Linked DNA regions of Homo sapiens: region 2 is linked to region 1. Evidence: fine-mapped expression QTL. Tissue or cell type: whole blood. Region 1 holds a variant in brackets; the other region holds the start of a gene. All regions are shown on one strand. Distances are between the middles of the regions.

Region 1 (2,758 bases):
ACTCCCTGGACTGCCCCCACAACCTCACCATACAGAGTAAACTACTTTCATCTGTGTGATCTTATAGCCCCTTGCCATACCCCAATCATGGTATTTATGAATTTTACTGTAGCTATTTTTTTTTTTTTTTTTTTGAGACGGAGTCTCGCTCCGTTGCCAGGCTGGAGTGCAGTGGTATGATCTGGGCTCACTTCAACCTCCACCTCCCAGGTTCAAGTGATACTCCTGCCTCAGCCTCCCGAGTAGCTGGGACTACAGGCACGTGCCACCATGCCCAGATCATTATTTTGTATTTTCAGTAGAGATGGGGTTTCACCATGTTGGCTAGGATGGTCTCGAACTCCAAACCTCATGATCTGCCCGCTTTGGCCTCCCAAAGTGCTGGGATTACAGGCGTGAGCCACCACGCCAGGCCTACTGTAGCTATTTTTTACATATCTATCTTTCGACTACACTATGAGCTACTTGAGGGCAAGTATCACAATTTTTGCACCTTTATGTCCTAAGAGCCTAGTAGTTCAATAAACAGTTATTTATTATAAAAAGAACTGAATCTATGTTCTATGGAAGTTGGGAATTTTCATCAGTTTTGTTCACAATATATTCCAAGTGCCCAGAACCATGCTTGGCACGTATTATTGAATGAACAAATGAATGAACAAACGAGGTCTTACCTGGTGAGAAGGCTGGGATCCCAATCTGTAAGATGATGTCTCTTTAGAGTGGAGGGTAGCTCCCACAACAATCCGGGGGAAGGGGAAAGGGGGAGACTGTTGGCCCAAGACAGCAGAACCTTGAGCATGAAAAAGCCGATCTCTTAGCTGCTGAACTGGTGGCTATAAGTTTTAATGAGGAAGAGCTGTGTCAAGAAATTAAAACAATCAAGGCCCCAGGTAGCAGTCAAATTTCAGCTGACCCTCTACACCAAGCTTGTCCAACCTGTGTTATTTTGTTGTTGTTGTTGTTCTGTTCTGTTTTGTTTTGTTTTAGGTTTTTAGCAGCCTGAAGCCATGGTTTTTGGTTTGTCTCTAGTGATAAGTGGAAAACCGGGATGAGGAAGGGGCTTTACTGGCCCAACCAGAAACAGAAACTAAGCACCCACGACTGTATTCTGACCCTTGGACACCCCCGCTCTATACTCTAGCCCCCTTAGAGATGACTCAAGGTTCCTGAATCCCTGCCAAACACTTGCATGCCTCCCTCCTTGCTATTCTTTCTGCTTAGAATGCTCTATATCTGCTGGTAAGCTACTTCTCTTTGAAGGTCCAGCTCAGCTGTTTTAACCATTGAGAAGCCTTCCTTGACTTCTCCAGGCAAAAATCAGTCCCTTCCCTGGACTCCCACAGTGCTCAGTATAAGCTTCTGTTATGGCACT[A/G]TAAGTCATCAACATCTGATCTTCCCCCAGTAGATTGTGAGGTGCTTAAGGGATTCCATCTTATCTATCCTAGGAGCTTCAGCATTAGCATAGTGCCTGGAATATGGAAGTGCTCAATCAATGTTAGATGACTGAATGAAATGGTTTGCTCTCTCCACATGGCCCCACTTACCTGAGCACAGTCCCTGGGTAGAAAGCTCATGGCAGTGGCCAGGCTGCCCTGGGCTGCCAGGAGGTTGGCATACTGAGTGACCCTGTAGGTTGTGGCAGGGCCTGGGCTCACCCCATGAGGACCCCGCAGTTGCTCCAAGCTCCTGTTAAGAACCATCACCTTCTCCATCAGGTCCTGTAAGGGCAAGGATGAGGGTGGTAAGCCTTCAATGAGGCATATCCTGCTCTCTAAGTCCACGCAGCTCATTCAGGGATCTCCCACTATGGGTACAGATGAGGGCACCTGACCATACCTAGGTGAAGGCAGCAGATGATGACACGTAAGAACTGTGACAGAGAAGGGCCACCTGGCCTCACCTCCCAAGCTGTTAGGATTGGATTTAACTGGACCCATCTGGGTCTTAGATTTTTGTACATCTCTACCTCTTCCTTTTGCTTTTTTACCCTTTCTGCTTATACATCACCAACCACAGACTCTGTCAGACTAATTGTTTCATGTGCGACTTTTGTCTCTCCATGAGTCTGTGACCCCCACTTTCTGTGGTCACCCACAGAACACCTGGAAGTTTAGATCCACAGAACTTTCCACAGTAGCTAATAGAAGGGCCAAGCCACAATTACTCAAGTACTGAATACATCTGTAAAACCAAACCTGAAATAGGAAAAAAATTATGAAGACTAACACTGAAGCAGCTGCTGCTTAGTCTTCTCTGAGGGAAGAGGAGAAGATCCCAGACATTCAGGACCTTTCGCTCCTCCCTAACACCGTGGTTCCAGCCTGTCCCAGAAGATTCGCCTCTGCTAGCTCTGCACATCTCCACCACTAGCCTCCTAAGGGCCTGGTGTGGAGTGGCCAGTACCCTGCAGAGAAGGGGTACCTGCAGAGCCATGGGGGACAAAGCCTGGTGGCATTTTGCCCAGCACTCCACCAGCCGCTCCACACTCCCTGAGCACACATAACAGAGTCTGGCTTCGGAGGTTAGTGCCCTGCTGCCCTCCTGTTCCATGCGAGTTCCCAGCATGTCTGCAGAGAGAGGGTAATTTCATTAATGGCACAGCTGCCCTGTGTGCCTCTCCTTCTCCTGTTTGGAAACAGGGAGAGGACCATGAGCCTGGGACAAGTAGCTGCAGTTTAAGACAACACTGAGACTCACCTTGCTGTACAGAGAAGGGGAAAGTTCTCACATCATGGTGTGACAAGACAAGGTAAAA
Region 2 (2,500 bases), 150 kb before region 1:
CACATCTGAAATCATCCAGTCTTGTTCAGAACTTTCACACCGGACAGGGAGCCAGGACTGGAATGCAGTCTCCTGGTCACTGGCCAGAGAGTTGGCCTGACCCTGAGACCAGTGGCCAACAAAGGAGCTGCTTAGTCTACCTCCCAGGAAATCCCAGGTGCTTGTCTTCCTGGGAAGTGAATCATTGGCGCAGCACTCCGTATTTTCTCCTCTTCCCAGGGGAAGGATCCTAGGGCAGTATTTGGGAAAGACATGGGCATGGAAGGACACCGGGTGAATGCATAGCCTGCCTGGTTCTGAGCTCTCATGGTAAGGCTCCTACAGACACGGAAAAGATGGGGGCACAGGGACAGATCAGTAGGGTCAGAGCATCTCAGGGACCGAGGGCAATATGGTCCTGAGCAGGGATTAAGAGCTTGGGCTCTCATATGGTGTTTCTGGGCTCAACTGCCAGCTCCATCACTTACTGGTTGCTGTGACCATGGGCAAGTTATTCCATCTCTCCATATCTCTTTCCTCACTTTTAAAATGGAATAATGGGGTACCCACCTCCCAGGGTCACAGAGAGGCTTACAGAAAACGATTCTTGTGAATTGGCTTGCAGTAATAATTCAATACCTGCCAGCTATTCTTATTCCACATCCAAGCCCTTTCGCCTGCTGCTGGGTGAAAACACATGTCAGTGTTTCCTGACGGTTTCCACAAAGAAGATTCCAAAATTACAACCTGCCAGTCTGAAGAATCTCCAAAACATCCCGCACGCATCCTGGAGGCGCGGGCTTGGGGATGGGACTGCCCGCCCGGGTCCTGAACAGGATGCGTGCGCGCAGGCACACACACACCAGCCAGCCTGTGTGTGCGGCCGGAGTCCGGTGCGGTCCCGGGTGAGCAGCGCGTGGCTGGTGGGCGGGGCAGAGCCATTGTTCGCAGGCGTACCGAGTCCCCCGCGCTCGCCCGGGAGGGAGGCGGGGCTTCCCGCGTCCCCCAAGCTCCAGATCCTGGGGTGGCTGCCACGTCTCCCTGCCACGCGCCTGGGGGGACGGAAGACGGGACGGAGATGTTAGTGGTGGGCGCCCCCCGAGGGTTCACCACTGTTTCCTGAGAAACTTCCCCAGTGCCCACCCACCCGTTCTCCGTGTGCCCGAGGGCCGGTCCTGGGCTAGGCTCCGCGCCCCAGCCCCAAACCGGGTCCCCAGCCCCTTCCAGAGAGAAAGCTCCCGACGCGGGATGCCGGGCAGAGGCCCAGCGGCGGGTGGAAGAGAAGCTGAGAAGGAGAAACAGAGGGGAGGGGGAGCGAGGAGCTGGCGGCAGAGGGAACAGCAGATTGCGCCGAGCCAATGGCAACGGCAGGACGAGGTGGCACCAAATTCCCTTCGGCCAATGACGAGCCGGAGTTTACAGAAGCCTCATTAGCATTTCCCCAGAGGCAGGGGCAGGGGCAGAGGCCGGGTGGTGTGGTGTCGGTGTCGGCAGCATCCCCGGCGCCCTGCTGCGGTCGCCGCGAGCCTCGGCCTCTGTCTCCTCCCCCTCCCGCCCTTACCTCCACGCGGGACCGCCCGCGCCAGTCAACTCCTCGCACTTTGCCCCTGCTTGGCAGCGGATAAAAGGGGGCTGAGGAAATACCGGACACGGTCACCCGTTGCCAGCTCTAGCCTTTAAATTCCCGGCTCGGGGACCTCCACGCACCGCGGCTAGCGCCGACAACCAGCTAGCGTGCAAGGCGCCGCGGCTCAGCGCGTACCGGCGGGCTTCGAAACCGCAGTCCTCCGGCGACCCCGAACTCCGCTCCGGAGCCTCAGCCCCCTGGAAAGTGATCCCGGCATCCGAGAGCCAAGATGCCGGCCCACTTGCTGCAGGACGATGTGAGTTTCCCAGCCTGGCCCCGTACCGCCGGGTCGCAGGCGCGGGCTGGGCTTCCAGGGGACGGGTTGGTGGCAGAAGAGAGGGGAGAGCTCCGCGGAGGACTTGGTCATCTTTTTCGAGTTGTGCTGCCTTCCGTGAGTTGGGAATGTGGATTGTAATTTGGGGACTTGAGTCTCCAACTTTAGTTTCTTAAGCTTTAAAGAAAAATCCGGTCGTGCTGGTGCTTTTATGAATTATGCGGGTTTTCCTTTGTCTTCGTGGGGATGTGAGTGCTTTACTTCTCCTTCCTACTGCCGCCTCCCGATAGGTTTCGCGCCCCTCGTCCCCCTCGCCCTCCGCCCCTAATGTATCTGTACAGTTTCAGGGAACTTTTCTCCGTTGCGTCTCGGATACACCCTACCCTCAGTGAACTACGGCGCTGCGGAAGGGTCCGTACTGTCCACCCTTCCCCCAGCGTGATTAGAGAGCGGAGTGGCCCCAGCTGCCTCCACGTGTCTCTTCTCCTGACTCTCCTCTTCCTCCCCCTTCCAGATCTCTAGCTCCTATACCACCACCACCACCATTACAGCGCCTCCCTCCAGGGTCCTGCAGAATGGAGGAGATAAGTTGGAGACGATGCCCCTCTACTTGGAAGACG

What was found. PIP is the estimated chance that this variant, and not a neighbour inherited with it, causes the effect.
Region 2: it holds the start of SCD, and the variant in region 1 is fine-mapped to the expression of SCD in whole blood (INTERVAL, PIP 0.95).

The regions. Positions count from the first base shown.
Region 1 is chr10:100,494,711-100,497,468 of GRCh38, forward strand. SEC31B (SEC31 homolog B, COPII component) reads right to left here. Exons shown (of 26, transcript NM_015490.4): 17 at 2,425-2,570; 18 at 1,548-1,721; 19 at 675-836. Among named protein-coding and RNA genes, the nearest start is that of SEC31B, 24 kb to the right of the region's middle. The variant A/G (reference allele first, on the strand shown) is at 1,376.
Region 2 is chr10:100,345,670-100,348,169 of GRCh38, forward strand. It overlaps SCD (stearoyl-CoA desaturase), which reads left to right and starts at 1,564. Exons shown (of 6, transcript NM_005063.5): 1 at 1,564-1,862; 2 at 2,395-2,500. The coding sequence starts at 1,836. RefSeq lists silencers at 829-1,208, 1,409-1,458 and enhancers at 999-1,590, 1,239-1,308, 1,689-1,928.